Regions from separate parts of the Homo sapiens genome. Here region 1 is linked to region 2. A link means that fine-mapping ties the variant in region 2 to the expression of a gene that starts in the linked region. Tissue or cell type: whole blood. Region 2 holds a variant in brackets; the other region holds the start of a gene. All regions are shown on one strand. Distances are from middle to middle. Region 1 holds the start of ZNF266 (zinc finger protein 266). Region 2 overlaps ZNF266 (zinc finger protein 266).

Evidence for each region. PIP is the estimated chance that this variant, and not a neighbour inherited with it, causes the effect.
Region 1: ZNF266 starts here. The variant in region 2 is fine-mapped to the expression of ZNF266 in whole blood (INTERVAL, PIP above 0.99).

Annotation. Positions count from the first base shown.
Region 1 is chr19:9,430,945-9,441,623 of GRCh38, forward strand. It overlaps ZNF266 (zinc finger protein 266), which reads right to left and starts at 4,629. Exons shown (of 11, transcript NM_001370374.1): 1 at 4,340-4,629; 2 at 4,164-4,249; 3 at 3,854-3,915; 4 at 3,131-3,291; 5 at 2,724-2,842. It overlaps LOC105372269 (a long non-coding RNA gene), which reads left to right and starts at 4,697. Exons shown (of 3, transcript XR_007067133.1): 1 at 4,697-4,828. RefSeq lists an enhancer at 4,420-4,549.
Region 2 is chr19:9,412,021-9,422,439 of GRCh38, forward strand. It overlaps ZNF266 (zinc finger protein 266), which reads right to left. Exons shown (of 11, transcript NM_001370374.1): 6 at 8,045-8,198; 7 at 7,197-7,279; 8 at 6,485-6,611; 9 at 5,808-5,888; 10 at 3,634-3,722; 11 at 409-2,700. The coding sequence starts at 8,069. The coding sequence ends at 1,255. Among named protein-coding and RNA genes, the nearest start is that of ZNF266, 18 kb to the right of the region's middle. The variant G/A (reference allele first, on the strand shown) is at 3,321.

The sequences.
Region 1 (10,679 bases), 19 kb after region 2:
CCTCTTCTCGCGGATCTGTAAGGAATAAAATGCTTCTGCTACTTGATGTGTTTTGTTGTGTTGCCTTTTCTGTACCTAACCCACCCAACACACCAGAACACCTCTCCTCTTGGTCGGGACAGAGCTAGAATTTACAGCCACTCTCCAGAGACAGAAGCCTCAGGACCTAATTAGAGGAACATACTAAAAGGGGACATGGGATGGACACTGCAAAAGGGAGCGTTGCCTGCTGGATACAATTGCGACACGGTGGTCAGCAGTGTGGGTGTGAGGGCATTGGAGGGTGCTCTGTCCACGCCATATGCCCATAACACAGTCCTTAGGATACCACAAAACCCTGGCCCAGTCACCACCACCCTGTGGCCCTCCTAATATGGACGCCACATGCTCAAAGGACTCCCACTAGCAGAGGCACCCTCTGCACATGTGCCGACTGGCTTGATGGCTTGTGTCCCTCATGACACAGACAATGCGCATGCCAGGATGCATGCTGCTGCATGACCTGTACCCCAAAGGTTTGTTCCCAAAGGCCTCCGAACGTGAACACTGAAGTCCCAGGCCTTGCAAACAAAGTGGCATCCAAATTTCCTGTGCATAGCTGCCCATCACCATCAGTGTGAGTGTGCCCCAGAGGTGTGTTTGTCACAGCACTTCCAGGGCAGACACGAACCAGTCCAAGCCTCATAGCTACAGTGGTGTCCTGACTCCCCCTACAGGCTGATCCACCCATTGCAGCTGGCCTTTGCCTTGAAACACTGCTTCAATCTTCCCTAAGGACTATGACTAACTCCCGCCTGAGTAACCCAGCAAACTTCACCATCCAGTGGGCTACAGCCACACTGTGGCCAAATACTGTAATATGACCCCAGAGATCCCCACCTGCTGGCATTCATACCCCTGGATAACACCCTCCTGTTGAGCGCACGCACGACCTTTGACCAGTTTCTAACAGAAGAATAAGCAAAAATGAAGAGAATGCAGATGTAATTGAGGTCTCAAGTCAGTTGGGTTTTGTTTTGTTTTGTTTTTAGACAGGGTCTCACTCTGGTTGCCCAGGATGGAGTGCAGTAGCGCAATCTCAGCTCACTGCAGCCTTCACCTCCCTGGTTCAAGTGATTCTCCTGCCTCAGTCTCTCAAGTGGCTGGGATTACAGGCACCCACCACCATGCCCGGCTAATTTTTGTATTTTTTTTAATAGAGTCAGGGTTTCACCATGTTGGCCAGGCTGGCCTTCAACTCCTGACCTGAAGTGATCCACCCACCTTGGCCTCCCAAAGTGTTGGGATTACAGGCGTGAGCCACTGCACCTGGCTTACTTTTATCTTGATACACATAGTGTATACATTACTGTTGCTGTAGGGCATGTATGTGTATAAACCTAGTATGTACTGCCAACAGTTTTTGAAATTGGTTTGCCAATACACTCTCCAAAAAGCAGTATATGCACATCCTCAGCAACTTTATATCAGAATCCCCATCAATGATTTCACTACATGCGGCTAGTTCACTGGAACCCCTAAGTGCCAAACAGAGAAAATGTATAGAATTTAAGTCTTCACTTAAAGTCATCAGCAGGTTCTTGGAAACTGAGACTTTAAGCGAAATGACATACAACAAAGCGAATTTTTTCACATGCTAATTAATATAAGCGAGTTAAGCTCCTACAGCATATTTCTGGTCACAAAAACATCACTAAACTTCTAAATAAAGACCCCAAACACTTCTAATATTAAATATTGAAATAAATGTGAAATATATATACATTTAAGAAAGACTAATAAAAATAGGCTATTTATCCAATTTTTGATGAATTGGTATGTGATGGCAGTTAACAGTGGTGGGTTAAAACAAATAAATGCTTCCAAAGCAAAAACTCTAAGGACCACCTCCTACCACCAAGAAGCTCAAAAACAATAACAAATGGGGCCAGCTTGCTAAGTGGTACCATTTACTGTTGTACAGTTGTATCATTATCAAATGTTTTAGGAATTTTTATTTTACAATAGTTTGTATTCATTCATTCATTCTCCAATCCACCTATTCCAGTTCCAGAATGAAAATGGCCAGAGCCCATCCTAACAGCTCAGGGCACACACACACATAGTGGGACAATTTAGACACACCAATTAAGCTAACATGTGCATCTTTGGCATGTGGGAAGAAACCAGAGTACCCAGAGAAAACCCATGCAGACATGGGAAGAACGTGCAGAATCTACAGAGTGGCCCTACTGGAATTTGATTTTTTTTCCGTCATCGATGTTATAATTAACAGACATTATTCTAAGATCTGTTGTATTTCCAGGCCATGTGGCCCCTTCACAGCTTTTTGGCAGCCCACATTGGCAGGTGAGTTTTCTGGTCATTTACTTACATGGATTGTATCAAGCCAACCCCCTAGGTGTATGAGTGTCTATAAGGAGTCACGCAGAGTGCTTACTCTGGACATTCCTTCAGGGAAACGAAGGACTAATTTAGGTAGGAGAAGGAACCCAAAAGTGAATTGAAAAAAACAACGAGAGAAGTTTTGTCTGTTTATGAATATACATATTTCCTAAGACTAATAATTAACATCAGTGAATTTTCATGGAGAGCTTATTTTTCAGTGATCAAGCACTGATTCTCATTAATCCCTTGAATTAATTTCTTATTCATGTAATTAAAACACATTCATGCTTCTCCTATTTTCCCTTGATTTACATCATTTGTCAGATATCACTTACTTTGGCCAGGCACAGTGGCTTATACCTGTAATCCCAGCATTTTGGGAGGCCGAGGTGGGTGGATCACTTGAGGTCAGGAGTCTGAGACCAGACTGGCCAACATGCTGAAACCATCTCTACTAAAAAAAAAAAAAATACAAAAATACAAAAATTAGCCAGGCATGGTGGCGCACACTTGTAATCCCAGCTACTAGGGTGGCTGAGGCAGGAGGATGGCTTGAAAACCCAAGAGGTGGAGGTTACAGTGTTTCAGTGAGCCGAGATCCTGCCACTGCACTGGAGCCTGGCAACAGCGAAACTCTGTCTCCCAAAAGATATCACTTACTATTTCCTGTCATACATTTAAGATTAAATTATCCCACCACATTGTTTCCCCAACCAAAGAAAGAATACTGACTCTGTCAAACCTGGGAGTAATCTTTGATGCACTCCTCTCTCTCACCATAGAAGTGGAGTCAGCCAATTCACAGAATGCTTTGCCCAGCTCTTATTTCCTTCCCCTTCAGTATGGCTAAATCATACCATATTTTTGGTCTCAGCTTGCATATCACTCTTTTCTTAGCATTGCCTATTCCAAAGAAAAATAGAGAAAATAATTCTGTCCTCTACTTTACTTACAGACCTTCATCAATTTGTAATACACTTATTTGCTTGGTTACATGACAGCCTCCTCCACTAGTTTACAACCTCCCTAAGAACAGCCCTAGGCTGAATTTTTTTACTATGCCTTAATTAACCATTCAGACACTCATCCATTTACAGGATACACCAATAAATGAAGGATACATTTAAACACGGCACAGAATACAATCAGAACTACCAAAATGTATAACTTTCTGAAAGAACGAGTGACTGCGCAAAAAGACAATATAACGGATAAACAGTGTCTGCTAGTTTTAAAGAGACTAAAAGACATGAAACTTGGATACGTAATAGATCCCAAAACAATCAAAACCATATATTGGAACAAAGTGGAGAACTGTACCTTTTTACACAGGGTACATATTAACAACATTTTAAATTTTCTGGGGTAATAGTATTATGGTTTTAAAAGGACATGTCTTTATCCACAGGACACGTATTACCAAGCATTTAAACCTTAAGTGTCACGCCTGCAATGTTCAACTTACTTCAAAGCCTCCATTCCTTCTTCCTAAAAGCCCGTTTTGAAGCTCTGTGGGGAGGTACAGGCCTAGGAAGTTCAGATAAAAAGAATAGCTGAGTATTCTTGCTTTTCTTCAGTAGAAAGACTTCTGGTCTACAAACGTTTATATTCACATAGAGAAATAACCACACCCCAGATACCTAAAAAATAGCTTTATGTTTCTACCTGAATGTAGAGTGTCAAAAGTAAATACAGGATGCGCAAAGAGAAAAACAAATTCTCAGATAAAACAGGAGGAAGAAGCCCCCGAAACCAACTTTCACCCCAGTACTCACCGCGACGAGCTGGACTCGCCAGGTACGGGAGATTGGGGGGATGAAGGACCAGTCAACCTGATTCGAACGACGAAAACTCGTTGTTTCTGGAAAAAAAAAAGTCACAAAGAATTGCTTTGGAAGAGTTTGAAGCGGCAATCACCGTGTTTGCAAAAATCGTGAGGAAGCGCCCTTACGACAGATCCCGAAACGGCTCCTGGCCCAGGGCCGTCGCAGTGACAACTCGAGTGGCTTTTTGAACCTGGCGGCGCCAGGAGGACCCGCGCGGCCCCGGCGGACGCGAGCGGAGCAGGCAAGGTCTCTCTAAGGAGGCCCCTCGGCGGCCTGGGGCAAACCGGTACTTTCGCCACCCCTTCCACCGCTGGCTCCCACCCGTCATCCGACCTCGCCAAAGCTGTATTAAGCCCAAACGCCACCAGGAAGAAAACGGGTTTGGCGGCGCGGAGAAAGCGCCGGAAAACACAGCAGCGCTCCGTGACGTCACTTCCGCCTCCAGCCTCAAACCTGGAGGAGCGCTCGGGAACTGCAACCTCAGCCGAGCTGAACAACCTCAGGCAGAGAGATTCTGGTTTACTCCCCAGTGGCTACGGAGACGCCTTGGAGGCCTTGGAGTCTGCTCACCTTGAGGGATGGAGGCCAAAAGGGGCCCAGAGCACAAGGCTGAGGTTAGAACCAGCCCTGCGGACGGGGCTAACCTAGGGTGGGGTCGGTGGTGTTGGCAAAGTTAGAGGTGGGGGCTCCCCCACAGGATGTGCACAATGCTCACAAAAAGCTTTTATTCTCACCTCCTCCCACGTTCCTAGCACCCTCAAAATGATGCTTCCTTTGATAATCCTGCCAGTCCATGATATGGCCTATCTCCTCCATTCATTCAATCTAGTTTTAGTTTTTTATTTTGTTTTTGTTTGAGACAGGGTCTCACTGTGTAGTCCAGGCTGGCGTGCTGTGGGGCGAAACTCATGGGCTCACGCCATCATCCCGCCTCAGCCTCCCGAGTAGCTGGGTCTACAGGCGCAGGCCACCATGCCCGGCTAATTTTTTTTCCCCCAGAGTTGAGGTATGTTACCCAGGCTGATCTCAAACTCCTGGGCTCCAACAATCATCCCGCCTCAGCCTCCCAAAAGGCTGGGATTACAGGCGTGCACCACGGCGCCGGGCCCAATTCAACTTGAGGCCAATATTTCCCCTTATTTCATTTATCTGGACGCCATGCTAAATTCTAATAGTTGATTCCTTTGTGTATTCAATATGCTGATACTTTTTGTAAATGTTGATTTTTTTTTCTTTGACTAATATATTGTTTTCTGAGATCTTACAGTGAGTTCCAGGGCCTCGTTGTAAAATACCGCGTTGTAAAATAGCACTGATATCAGGCATTCACTTCTGCAGGAGTGATTCTAGTTTCTCCAGAAATCGTTTTTGCTGTGCTTTGTAGTGGGTGGCCTTTATGGAGTTAATAAAGTTATTTTGAACACTGTTTTACTAACATGAAGAACTGTTCATGTACATTATCAAATATTTTGTGAATCTACTGAACTGGTAACTATTTTGCAGTTAATTTTTCAACTCAAAAAGATTTTCTTTTTTAAGTTTCCTCTCTTGCATTAAGAAGTCTTCATAAACTCTAGATTACATATAGATTTCCTAATTTTCTTCTGCAGCATATTACTTTAAAAACATTGAAATCTTTCATACTCATGGAATGTGTTTCAGTATGTGGTGTGGGATAGTGGATACAATATCTCTTTCCTCCAGAAACACGGCCAATTATTGTAGTACCACATATTGATAAACTGTCCTTGATTTACTGATTTCAAATTCCATGTTTATTAAACTATAAATTCCTATGTATACCTGTATCTGATTCTAGACTCTATGCCAGTAATACATTTACTTATGCCAATATCAAGATCATAATCTTTTCATTCCAGTGGTTTTGTATCAACTAATAATATTCCGTGGTAATAATAATAATAATGGTAGCTTTTTTGTTTGTTTGTTTTTGAGACAGTCTTGCTCTGTCACCCAGGCTGGAATACAGTGGTACGATCTCGGCTCACTGCAACCTCCACCTCCTGAGTTCTAGGGATTCTCCTTTCTCAGTCTCCTGAGTAGCTGGGATTATAGGCACGCGCCACCACGCTCAGCTAATTTTTGTATTTTTTTTTTTTTTTTTTTTTAGTAGAGATGGGGTTTCGCCATGTTGGCCAGGGTGGTCTCAAACTCCTAACCTCAGGTGATCTGCCCACCTCAGCCTCTGAAAGTGCTGGTGTGAGCCACCGCACCTGGCGGTAGCTGTTTTTTAAATCTTACTACCCTAAATGCTTAATAGACATTAAATTTTTACGCTCCCAATGATGTGGCTATTATTGTGATTTTTCCCTTTTGGTTTTTAGACCAGCTGTATTGAGATACAATTCACATATAACCAACACAGTTCACCCACTTAAAGCTATATAATTCAATATTTTTTAGTACATTCGCAGTGTTGTTCAAACATAATTTTGGAACATTTTAATCACACTAAAAGAAATCTTTGAATGGGAAAACCCATTTACCTCCTCTTTAAGCTCCAGGGAACCACAAACCTACTTTATCACTACAGATTTTTCTTTTGTAGACATTTCATATGGATATACTCATACAATTTATTTTTATTTTTGTATAGACAGGGTCTCACTATGTTGCAAGGCTGATCTCGAACTCCTGGGCTTAAGTAGTCCTGCCTCGGCCTCCAAAAGTGCTGGGATTATAGGCGTGAGCCACCATGCCCGGCCTAAAAATCATACAATCTTTTGTGAATAACTTTTTTCACTTAGCCCGTTTTTCAAGGTTCATCTGTATTATAGCCTAGATCATTCTATTTTATTGCTGAATGATATTCCATTCTATGTATATACCATATATGATTTGTCTTCAGTTGATGGACATATGGTTTGTTTCCACTTTGGGGGTGTTGTGATTAATGCTGCTATGAAAATTCACATATATCTTTTTGTGCATACTGGCTTTTATTTTTTGAGAAATCACAGCTCACTGCAGCCTCTACCTCCTAGGCTCAAGCGATCCTCCCACCTCAGCCTCCTGAGCAACTAGGACCACAGGCATAAGCCACCACACCCAGCTAATTTTTGTATTTTTTTGTAGAGACAGGGTTTTGCCCAGGCTGGTCTCAAACTCCTAAGCTCAAGCAACCTGCCCGCCTCGGCCTCCACAAAGGCATAAGCCACCACGCTCAGCTGGTTTTTATTTCTCTAGAGTATATATCTGGGAATGGAATTGCTGAGCCATACAGTAACTATCTAAGAATTTGAAGAACTGCCACACTGTTTTTGAAAGGGGCTGTACTGTTTTACATTCCCACCAGAAATGTATGAGGGCTCCAACTTCTCTACGTCCCTGCTAACACTTTAGTGTTTTTCATGTTAACTGTGTTAGTGGTGTGAGGTGATACCTCATGATTTTGACTTGTATTTCCCTAACACTAGTGATGTTCAGCATCATTTAATGTGCTTTGTTAGCCATTTGTATGCTTCTTTGGAGAAATTTCTGTTCAATTCCTTTGCCCCTTTTAAAATTTGTTTTCTGGCTGGGCACGGTGGCTTGTAATCCCAGCAATTTGGGAGGCTGAGACAGACAGATCACTTGAGGCCAGGAGTTCAAGACCAGCCTGGCCAACATCGTAAAAGATAAAAAATCAGCCAGGCGTGATAGCACACACCTGTAATCCCAGCTACTCGGGAGGCTGAGGCAGGAGAATCGCTTGAACCCGGGAGGAAGAGGTTGCAGTCAGCCAAGATTATGCCACCGCACTCCAGCCTGGGTGATAAAGTGAGACTCTGTTTCGAAAAAAAAAAAAAAAAAGGTCCGGGTGCAGTGGCTCACGCCTGTAATCCCAGCACTTTGGGAGGCCAAGGCAGGCAGATCACCTCAGGTTGGGAGTTCAAGACCACCCTGACCAACATGGAGAAACCCTGTCTCTACTAAAAATACAAAAAAGTAGCCAGGCATGGTGGCACATGCCTGTAATTTCAACTATTCAGGAGGCCAAGGCAGGAGAATCGCTTGAACCCAGGAGGCGGAGCTTGCGGTGAGCTGAGATGGTGCCATTGCAATCCAGCCTGGGCAACAAGAGCGAAACTCTCTATCTTAAAAAAAAAAATTCCATTGAGTTGCAAGAGTTCTTTATATATTCTGAAGAGAGGTCCTTATCATATATATGATTTACAAATATTTTCTCTCAATAGGTTTTCCTTCTCTTTCTTGATGGAATATTTTAGAATACTAAACTATATAATATTGATGAGTGTCCTCTGAAGTACAAGTTTAATGTTGATAATTTTTTGTTTGCAATGTTTTTGATACTGCACCTAAGAAAACAGTACTAAATCCAGTATCATGAAACTTTTCTGCCTATACTTCTGGGAATTATTGTAGGTCTTACATGTATGTTTAGGTCTTTGATCCATTGTCAGCTAACTTTTGTGGGGTTTTTAAATATTTTAATTTTTTTAGCTTAATCCCCAATGTGGTATCTGTTAACTTTTGTATGTGGTATAAAGTAAAAGCCCAAATGCATTCTTTTGCAGTATGGTATCAATTTCTCCCAGAACCATTTGTTGAAAACATTCTTTTCATTCTTCATTGAATTACCCTGGCAGCCTTGTAGATCTGTTGACCATATATGTGAGGGCTTACTTCTGGACTCTCAATTCTATTCCATTAATTTGTATGTTTATCCTTAAGCCAGTGCCACATTGTTTTGATTACTACAATTTTGTAGCACTTTATGAAATCCAAAAGTGTGACTCCTTCAACTGTGTTCCTCTTTTTCAAGACTGTTTGGCTATTTGGTGTTCTTTCCATTTCTATATAAAGTTTATGATGAGCCTGTCAATTTCTGCTATGAAGCCAGTGCTAAATTAAAAAAAAAAATAACATCAGTGGAACTTGTTAAAGCATAGTAAGGCAGACTTTATTCAGTACCATCACGTTAGGTATAGGGACCACTGCAGTAGGATTTTGCAGTGGAGGTGACAGAGTAGGCTAACTCTGAATAATTATAGCATGAGCAAATGGGAATTTATAGTCAAGTTAAAGAGTAAAGGTCAGTGAGTGGAAAATTGCCAAGAGGAATATCAGGGGTATGGAGGATGGTGGATAAACTGACCTAACATGATGTCTGATCACTTTGGCCTGTAATTGGTAGATAGTAGAGAATCGGGAACCTGATCAGCTATAAGGGTGATCTGATACTGAGGGTGGTAGGTTCTTATTGTACTGACTTAGCAGGGTTCTTGCTAAAACTCAATATACAAAAGTGTACACATGGGCCTAAGAAAAGTTTAAGGAGCTTGACTATAGTTGAGTAAAGCAAAGACTCTGTCACCATCTGGAATTTTGATAGGGATTATGTTTAATCTATAGACCAACTTGGAGAGTACTGCCATCTTAAAAATAATGTTCAGTATTCTTGGTCAGGTGTGGTGGTTCATGACTACAATCCCAGCACTTTGAGAAGCCGAGATGGGCAGATCACTTGAGGTCAGGAGTTCGAGACCAGCCTAGCCAACATGGTGAAACCCCATATCTACTAAAAATACAAAAATTAGTTGGGCATGGTGGCACATGCCTGTAATCCCAGCTACTCGGGAGACTGAGGCAGGAGAACTGCTTGAACCCAGAGGCAGAGGTTACAGTAAGCCGAGATTGCACCAGTGCATTCCAGCTTGGGCAACAGAGTAAGACTCCCTCTCAAAAATAATAAGTATTCTAATCCATCAACATGGGGTGACTTTCCATTACTTTTCATCTTTATCAACATTTTGTGGTATTCAGTATGGAAGTCTCGCACATCTTTTATCAGATTTATTCCCAAGTAGTTTATTATTTTAATACTATAATAAATGGAATTGTTTTCTTTTCTTTTCTTTTCTTTTCTTTTTTTTTTTTTTTTTTGGAGATGAAGTTTCGCTCTTATTGCCCAGGCTGGAGTGCAGTGGTGCCATCTCAGCTCACTGCAACCTCCACCTCCTGGGTTCAAGCGATTCTTCTGCCTCAGCCTCCTGAGTAGCTGGGACTACCGGCACGCGCCACCACACCCAGCTAATTTTTTTTTTTGTATTTTTAGTAGAGACGGGGTTTCACCATGTTGGCCAGGCTGGTCTCGAGCTCCTGACCTCAGGCCTCCCAAAGTGCTGGGATTACAGGCATGAGCCACCACGCCCAGCCAGAATTGTTTTCTTAATTTCATTTTTGGCTTGTGCCGTGATAGTATACATAAATACAACTGAGTTTTCTATGTTGATCTTGTTACCTGTAACCTTGTTGAACTTGTTTATCAGTTTTAATAGTTTAGTGGATTCCTTAGGATTTCCTACATAAAAAATCACATCAGTAGATAAACTTCTCCATTCCATTCTGGATTCATTTTCCTTTCCTTGCTCACTTACTTTTTAAATTCCAAATGGATATGGAATTTTTCATCTTCCCTCACAATACTTTCCTCTCTCTCAA
Region 2 (10,419 bases):
ACTTGCAGTCTAATTTTAGATATGTAAAATGAGCCTCGTGGAATTAGTAAAAGCTTTCCCACGTGCCTTACAGCAGAAGTGTTCTCTACACTGTGAATTTTTATTTCTCATGTAAGGTATAAACATTTAATGAAATCTCTCCACATTACTAATAATGGAGCCTCAGTCCACTCTAAGTCACTAAATGTTGGGTGAAGTCACATTTATGACTTTCATAGTAAAAGAAACTTTCTCTTCTTGATGGTCTTTGATTTTCACAGGGCCTATCACCACAAGAGTTGGAAGTGAGTATTAAGATCTGATGAGCACTTACAGACTTCTTCACATGTCCTACATTCATAGAACGTCTCTCCTGTGATTGCTTTTGTGTTTACACTAACACTAATGATAGCTAATGAACGGAAAAAATAATCACAAAAAAATTTTATTATGTTTGAAGAAAGCTTAAAAATTTGTGTTGGTCTGCATTCAAAGCCATCCTGGCCTGCGGGTTGGACAAGCTTGATCTAAAGCTTTTCCCAAGTTCCTCACAGTATTAGTTTCCTAGGGTTGCTGTACAAAATAACAGACTGAATGATTTAACCAAGAGAAATTTATTGCCTCACAGTTCTGGAGCCTGGAAGTGCAATATCAAGGTGGAGACAGGGTTGGTTTCCTCTGGAGGCCATAATGAAAGCATCTGTTCCAGGTCTCTGTCCTTGGCTTGTAGATGGCCATCTTCTGGTGGATCCACACAGTCTTCTCCATGTGTATCCTTCCTTCAGTTTCCCTTATAGGGACACCAGTGATGTCAGATTAGGGATCGAACCCAACAACCTCATTTGAAGTTACTCACCTGTTTGAAAACCCTATGTCCAAATACAGTTATAGTGTAAGGAACTAGGACTTAGGGCTTACAAATATGGAGTGGGGCATCATCCAGACCATACCATTTAAATTGCAGGGTTTCTCTCCAATGTGAGTTCACATACACACATTAAGGTTTGTGGGATTCAGAAAGGTATTCCCAGATTCTCTACATTCATACAGTTTCTCTCCAGTGAGATTTCTGATGTGTTTGGTAAGGCTTGAGAATTCAGCAAAGTCATTTCCACATTCCCTGATGCAGGGTCTTCTCCACTGTGAATTCATATGTGTTCATTAAGACCTGAGATACAAAGTTGCTTCCACATTTTTACATTCATAGGGTTTCTCCCCAGTGAGTTTTCATGTCTTCAGAGAGAACAGGGACACCTTTAGGTTTTCCCACATTCCTTATGCTGACAGTCTCTCATCCGCATGCCTTCTTTCATGATTTCGAAAGGAACTGGAAGAACTGAAGGCTTTCCCGCACTCCTTACATTCATAGGGTTTCTCTCCAGTGTGAGTTCGTTCATGTAACTGAAACGAATTGGAGTAACTGAAGGATTTCCCACACTGTTTACATTTGTAGGGTTTTTCTCCAGTGTGGATCCGCATGTGAAGGTTAACACACGTGGGAAACTTAAAAGCTTTGCCACATTCCATACACGTGAATGGTTTTTTGGCGCTGTGGGTCCGCATGTGATTATTAAGACTGGAGGAATGCGTAAATGCTTTACCACATTCCAGGCACTCAAAGGGCTTCTCTCCAGTGTGAATTCTCAAATGTCCACTAAGATTTGAAGAAATAGCAAAGGCTTTCCCACATTTGACACATTCAAAAGGCTTCTCTCCAGTGTGAGTTCTTGTATGTTCACTAAGGCGAGAGGATCTGGCAAAGGCCTTTCCACATTCCTTACATTCATAGGGCCTCTCTCCACTGTGAGTTCGTGCATGCTTAGTAAGGTCTGAGTTCTGAGTGAAGGCTTTCCCACAATCCTTACATTTATAGGGTTTTATTCCAGTGTGAATTCGAAAGTGATCACTGAGGCATGAGGAATTTCTAAAGGATTTTCCACATATCTTACATTCAAAGGGATCCTTTGCAGTGTGAGTTTTTAAATGTTCAGTAAGTTGAGAAGATCTAGTGAAGGCTATCCCACATTCCTTGCATTCATAAGGCTTCTCACCCACATGGATTTTCATATGTTGACTTAAGCAAGAGGAAACAGTGAAGGCTCTCCCACAATCCTTACATTTATAAGGTTTCTCTCCAGTGTGAGTTTTTCTGTGCTGAGTAAGTTGACAAGACCTGGTGAAGGCTTTCCCACACTCCTTACACTCATAGGGATTGTCTCCAGTGTGGGTTCCCATGTGAATATTAAGGTATGCAGAATATCTAAATCCTTTTCCACATTCCTTACATTTGTAGGGTTTTTCTGACCTGTGAGTTTGTATACGCACAGCAAGGTCTGTGGAGTGAATAAAGCCTCTCCCACATTCCTTCCATTCATGGAGACTTTCTCCATTGTGAGTTCTTAAATGTCCCTGAAGGTGTGAATGATTAATGAAGGATTTCCCAGAGTCACTGCAATCAAAAGCTTTCTCTCCTGTGCACGTTCTCTGGCAAACAACATCTGGGTTCAGGCTGAAGGCTTTTCCACACTGACTAAATACAGAACGTTGCTCTCCAGTAGAGGTTTTCTTGTGCAGAGTAAGGAAGTCTACTCCATACAGATAACACTCAAATGTGTTCTCACTATTTTGAGTTCTCACATGTGTCTTAAGGCATGAGTGTTCACTGGAGACATCTCCACATTGCTTAACATCACTGACCTCCCCTCCGTTGTGGCTTCCTATCTGTTGATAAAGGAATGAATGATGATTAAAGGACGGTTCAGATTGATTAACAGATTCCACTCATCTGAAGAGAGGAACACTGTGATGATTATTATCATGTTTACCATTTTCATTACACACATATAAGTAATGCCCTTTTGATTTCTTTCCAGCGGAATGACAAAAAACTCCTGCCAGGCTGTGCCATCTACTCTAATCTCAAATGTCTGTAGAGTTTTATGAAATTGTCTTAAAAACTCACTATCTAGTTACAAATGTGTACTTGAGGGGAACTCTAAAACACCTAAGTGTTGGCTGGGCGCAGTGGCTCACGCCTGTAATCCCAGTGCTTTGGGAGGCCAACGTGGGCAGATCACCTCAGGTCAAGAGTTCAAGACCAGTCTGGCCAACATGGTGAAACCCTGTCTCTACTAAAAGTACAAAAACTAGCCGGGCATGGTGGCACGTGCCTGTACTCCCAGCTACTCAGCAGGGTGAGGCACAAGAATCGCTTGAACCCAGGAGGTGGAGGTTGCAGTGAGCCAAGATCATGCCACTGCATTCCAGCCTGGGTGACAGACCAAGACTCTGTCTAAGAAAAAAACAACAATAAGTGTCAAGCTAGATTTCAAGCATCCCCA[G/A]GTCATCGTATTCTGAGTCTCTCTCCAGAGTCATTATCCCTTTTGGGAATGCTACTTATCTCAAAGAGCTCTCATTCTGCTAATTTTCTTTTTCTTTTAATGTAATTAAATTTAGTTTTTAGCGCCAAGATCTTGCTACGTTGACCAGGCTGGTCTAGAACTCCTGGCCTCAAGTGATCCTCCCACTTCAGCCTCCCAAAGTGCTGGGATTACAGGTGTGAGCCACCATTCCCAGCTTTATTCTGATTTTCTATAATGGAATCCCCAATCATCTCTAAATGTGAAAACTAAGACGTATCCTTGTTAATCTTACCATTTGAATCCCACTGGAGGTTGGCTCCCCCAAAACATCCTGCTGAAGGGCTAACTCTTTGGTTTTAAGTTGCACTTTCCATTCTGAAGCTGAAGAGAAAAAGAAATGTAAGGGTTTGGAGACATACAGGGTAGACAGATGGAGCTGAAAATGAGAGGGATCATTTGTACTTGTTTTCTTTTTTTCTTGAGACGGTGTCTCACTCTGTTGCCCAGGCTGGAGTGCAATGGCGTGGTCTCAGCTCACTGCAACCTCTGCCTCTCAGGTTCAAGTGATTCTCCTGCCTCAGCCTCCTGAGTAGCTGGGACTACAGGCACATGCCACAACGCCCAGCTAATTTTTGTATTTTTAGTAGAGACGAGATTTCACCATGTTGGCCAAGCTAGTCTCAAACTCCTGACCTCGTGATCCACACGCCTCAGCCCCTCAAAGTGCTGGGATTACAGGCATTAGCCACCACACCCGGCCCCTGTATTTGTTTTCAAATTAAACACGGTAACAAAAAACAAACACAAAGACAGATTTGAAGATTGTATATCAAAAATTTGGCAATAATAAGGATATAGCGTCAAAATTTTACATAGTTTACTACAAACTGATTCTATGAAAATTATAAACTGATGGTGAACACAAAGAATATTACCATGGAAGGAAAGTTGAGGAATAGAACAAAAAGCACACATCAAAACAAGGAGCTTGTTTTTGTTTTTTGTTTTTTTTTTTTTTTGAGAAAGACTTTCACTCTTGTCACTCAGGCTGGAGTGCAATAGAACAATCTCGGCTCACTGCAACTTCCGCCTCCCAAGTTCAAGCGATTCTCCTGCCTCAGCCTCCCGAGTAGCTGGGATTACAGGCACCTACCACCAAGCCCAGCTAATTTTTGCATTTTTAGTAGAGACAGGGTTTCAGCATGTTGGCCATGCTGGTCTCGAACTCCTGACATCAGGTGATCCTCCCACCTCGGCCTCCCAAAGTTCTGGGATTACAGACGTGAGCCACCGTGCCAGGCCTTTTTTTTTTTTTTTTTTTTTTTTTTGAGACAGAGTCTTGCTCTCTCACCCCAGCTGGAGTTCAGCGGCACGATCTTGGCTCATTGCAACCTTCGGCCCCTGGGTTCAAGCGATTCTCCTGCCTCAGCCTCCCTAGTAGCTGGGACTACAGGAGTGCGCCACCACGCCCAGCTAATAGTTGTATTTTTGTAGCGATGGGGTTTCACCATGTTGGCCAGGCTGGTCTCAAACTCATGACCTCATGTGATCTGCCCGCCTCAGCCTCCCAAAGTGCTGAGATTATAGGCGTGAGCCACCACACCTGGCCCAAAACAGGAACTTTTAAAGAAGAAACCAACGGGTCCTATCACAGAAAAGAATGAGTAGACAAAGCGTAAAAGTATGAGAAGTTGAAGATTTCTTAACTTCTGAGAAAGAAATGGCCTACCTGGGCATGGTGGCTCATGCCTGTAATCCCAGCACTTTGGGAGGCCAAGGCAGGTGGATCACTTGAAGTCAGGAGTTTGGGACCAGCGTGGCCAATGTGGTGAAACCCTCTCTCCACTAATAATACAAAAAATTAACCAGGCGTGGCACACACCTGTAGTCCCGGCTACTCGGGAGGACGAGTACTCAGGAGAATTACCTGAACCCGGGAGGCTGAAGTTGCAGTAAGCCGAGATCGCACCACTGCACTACAGCCTGGGTGACAGTGAAACTGTGTCTCAGAAAAAAATAAAAATAAAAAAAATAATGGCCTCAACACTGTGAGATGAAGCACATCTTAAAAAGTTTCCTCATTATGGCTAAGCGTGGTGGCTCACGCCTGTAATCCCAGCACTTTGGGAGGCCGAGGTGGGCAGATCATGAGATCAGGAGTTTGAGACCACACTGACCAACACGGTCAAACCCCGCCTCTACTAAAAATACAAAAATTAGCCAGGCATGGTGGCGTGAGCCTGTAATCCCAGCTACTCAGGGGGCTGAGGCAGGAGATCAGAAGGCTGAGGCAGGAGAATCGCTTGCACCTGCGAGGCGGAGGTTGCAGTGAGCTGAGACTGTGCCACGGCACTCCAGCCTGGGTGACAGAGTGAGACTCCATCTCAAAAAAAAAAAAAAGTTTCCTCATTATACTTATAAACATACTGAACTTATTGACCAGGGCGGTCCTTTGTGAACACTCACCTTGGAAATCACCTCTCTGCACTGTCCTAGACTCTTCTTGTTCCAGCCAAGAGATCAGACTGGGTTTGAAGAGCTGATATCCTGTGCACAAAGAAAGATACATTACCAGAAGAGGCTCATGCAAGAGATGATAAATCTTTCCACAACTCAGGAGATATAGTTCCAATGGAAGCAGTGAAATTATTTTAAAAGGGCTAAAAATGCAAATATCGTCTGTCTGTGCCCCCAAAAGATTGGTGATCTCTGATCCCTGAAGCCCAAATCCAGGCTGATGTACACACTTACAAAGCACTAAGACTTTTATCCAAATAGGAAGTTAAGTGAAACAAAGAGATCTTCATTCTCATGGGAAACAACTATACATCTCATTCTTCAACATTATAGCACATCAGATTCATGAGAGCTTGTTAAAACACAGATGACAGGGGCCCTGTTGCAGTTTCTCACTGAGTATGTCAAAGGTGGAGACTGAGAACATACATCTCCAACAGTGCTGGTGATGCTCTTCATCTGACACCACATTTTGAGAATCACCAAGTAGATGAAACCCTATTAGGGCAGGGACTATGTCTGTTATTTCCCATTGTGTTCAGAGTTGCTATCTCTGATGTGCAATACAGTAAGTACATAACATAATCTGTTCCATAGTAGGCTACAAGGGATGAGGCCAGTCTTACCTACTGTGGCCAAATTCTTGTAGTTCTCCAGCATCACATCTCTGTAGAGGTTTCTCTGAGTTGGGTCCAGTAAAGTCCATTCTTCTGGGGTGAAGTCCACAGCCAGATCATCAAAAGTCACTGAATCCTAAACCATCACACACATGCTGGCTTGAGCCACAAAACATGTCTACCAGTGTTCACTGCAAAATGCAATACCTACAGAGTCTGAGGGCTCACATTGCCCACCCCAGGAGGTCCTCTCTATCCACACTCACTCACTGTCAGTCCCCTCCAGTGACACGGCTTGAATGGCACTTCTTACACATGATTGTATGTAACACAACCAGACTGGGAGGTCATCTGATTTCCCTCCACTGCAGCACACTCTTGAGCAGATGCTAGATAAACACTGATGAATGGAAAGATTATCTCAAAGGATACTTTCATGTCCCTTACCATGTGTCAGAACACTCAACAAAATAAAAACTATGCAGTTGGGACCATGAGGGAAGACTAATTAATCAATATTGAAATACTGGGATGACATTCAAGGCAAACCCTCACCAATATGACAGGCTCCACTCCTTCCGGGAATTCGACTAGGGACTCAGTCCTTGAAGGAGGCTTTATTTGCTTTAAGAAGCTCTGAAGATAATTCTGTGTAGAAGGAAATGTGTCTACCTGGTGATGCAAGTATGATATTTTGGAGAAGGATATACTTCCTGCATACCTGATAACAATTTGTCAGACAGTCAGCCACCACCCTTTCTACTTCTGTCTTTTCTTGAAGGCAGACTGGGTCCCTGTAAAGACCTCATGGAAAAGAAAGAAGGCATGAGAACCCAGGGCTGACGATAATTCCCACATTCACGTACCCCAAAGTCATTCCATCCTACTGTGAGATTCCTATATACTCCCGCACACTCAAGAAAACACACACATACACACCACCGCTATCAATTCCAGGGCACTACTGCCTCACGTAAAGGCAAAAAAAAGGATAGTCAGCCATGCTGCCCACTGGGAAAAGGGTAACAGTCTTATTTTACAGATAAGGAAAACTTCTCTTCCCTGGAAAGACACAGCACCTCTTCCCAAAGCACACACAGCAGGGGGCTGATGAAGTATTCTGGCTGGGCGTGATGGCTCACACCTGTAATCCTAGCACTTTGGGAGGTCGAGGCAGGCAGATCACTTGAGGTTAGGAGTTCGAGACCATCCTGGCCAACATGGTGAAACTCCATCTCTACTAAAATTACAAAAAATTAGCCAGGTGTGGTGGCACACGCCTGTAATCCCAGCTACTCGGGAGGCTGAGGCAGGAAAATCGCTTGAACCTGGGGGGCAGAGGTGGCAATGAGCTGAGATCATGCCACTGCACTCCAGCCTGAGCAACAGAGCAAGACTCTGTCTCAAAAAAAAAAAAAAAAAAAGGAACAAAGCATTCCCTAGCCCACATCAGCACCTCAGAAATGAAGCTGCAGCGTGAATGATCAGGCACAGGCCACTGGACTCCATACTGTGTGGGGGGGGACACCTAAAGCAGGGTATCTGAAAATGAACAGAAACAGGACTTACCATAGGACAAATCAGTGGCTGCCATCCCACAGGGCTGATGGCTGAATGTGCTTCAAAGCACCTTTCCTTTACTCCAAGGATCACTCCAGGACAGCTTAGGAATCTACACGGACAGAGGTAACCTCCATTCTCTTTATCCAGGGTTAACGGTATCCTGTTTGTATAAATCATTAATCAACAAGCATTACTTATCAGTCATCAGACATCATTAGCACTCTCTCTGCAGAGCATATAGAGGAAAAGACACTGAAAACGGTGTACACTACAAATAGTAGGAAGACCAACTTCCACTACTGAGGAACAGTGTGTGTCAGAAGTCACACTAGCAGCTTTATATACTCGCTTAATTATCATAACCACCCTTTACAGTAGATACCAATGACCCCTATTTGATAAAGAAAAAATCAGGCCGGGGGCGGTGGCTCACGCCTGTAATCCCAGCACTTTGGGAAACCAAGGCAGGTGTGTCAGTTGAGGTCAGGAGTTCAAGACCAGCCTGGGCAATGTGGTGAAACCCCATCTCTACTGAAAACACAAAAATTAGCTGGGCATGGTAGTGCATGCCTATAAATCCCAGCTACTGAGGAGGCTGAGGCAGGAGAATCGCTTGAACCTGAGAGACAGAGGTTGCAGTGAGCCGAGATCACACCACGGCACTCCAGCCTGGCAACAGAGTGAAACTCTCTCTCAAAAGGAAAAAAAAAAAAAGAAAAAGAAAAAAAAGAAAACCTACAATCAGACAACACTTGGATTTGGTCCAGAATCATCCAGTTTGGAAGTTGTGAACCAGGACTTGAACACAGGCAATTTTGTCCCTGACACCCAATCTGTGGCTGCTCTTACTTTCCCACATGACCAGCGTTAGTCTAAACCTGCACAGTACAACACCATGGTCACTACCCACATGTGTTATTGAACACCCACTCCATATAAACCGAGTATGACCCAACAACAGAATGTATTTTAATTTAATAAAATTTATACAATTAAAATAAAATTTAATAAAAATTAATCACAATCTTTAATAAATCAAACACAGAACAACAGTGCAAATGCTGATTGACAGAATGGAATCTGAACGATGAAAATCACTGAAAACTGAACAGTTCATTATCCATGAACCAGATACACCCCCACAAGGACGCTACAGCCTTTATTCTATGAATGAGAAGGCTGAAACTCTGAGGTCACACTGGGTTACAGAAACCCCATGTCTAGACTCCTGGTGTAGATTGTACCCACTACCATGGGTTTCAAACTGGGGATCCTTAGGCTGAAGAGGGCCACAAATGTGTTTAATTTGGTGAAATCTAAACCAATTATGTTATTTTAAACTTGAAATGTAATTAATGTACAATTAAAAGTACAGATCTTAGGTATTCAGTGGATGAATTTTGACAATCGCATACACTTGCATAATCAAAAGCCTAAACAAGATATAAAACATGTTCGTCTCCCCATGAAAACCTTCTTGCCCCTTCCAGTCTATCTTTTCACTCTCAACTCCAGATAAGCACCCTGTGATTTCCTTCATTTAGCAGACACAACACTGGACAGGTAAATTAGGCAGTGTGCTCATCTCTCGCAAATGTACATCCTATCTTCATTTTTCTCTACTATTTAAATAACATGAGATAAAAATTCTAAAATCTCCCACTGCAACTGTGGACTTGTCTATTTCTTCTTGTGTATCTGTAATGTATACTCCTTTATACATCTTGTAACAACATTACTGGGTAGATAGATACACACATTGAACTTTCCTATTTTTGGAGCAACAAAACCTTTCTTTTTTTTTTTCTTTTGAGACGGAGGCTCGCTCTGTCACCCAGGCTGGAGTGCAGTGGCGCGATCTCGGCTCACTGCAAGCTCCGCCTCCAGGTTCACGCCATTCTCCTGCCTCAGCCTCCCGAGTAGCTGGGACTATAGGCACCCGCCACCACACCCGGCTAATTTTTTTGTATTTTTAGTAGACACGGGGTTTCACCCTGTCAGCCAGGATGGTCTCGATCTCCTGACTTTGTGATCTGCCCGCCTCGGCCTCCCAAAGTGCTGGATTACAGGCGTGAGCCACTGCACCTGGCCACAACAAAACCTTTTTTTTATCATAAGGAACTCTGCGAGTCTCTAGGAATGTTCTTGGATGATGCTGGGTGACACTGCAACTTGCTTTTCTTTGTGGAGTCTCTGTATCTCATGGGCAGCCTTAGGTATCTTTGGGTGCCAATGTTCCCCTTGACCTGGCATGGAGCCTAAAGGCACCCAGTGATGGCTGGACAGACAACTGAGATCCTTCTCAACACTGTTAAAGTACACCCAGACTACAGCCCCATCACAATTCATAACACAATATGCATCTGAGTTCTGAGGAAATG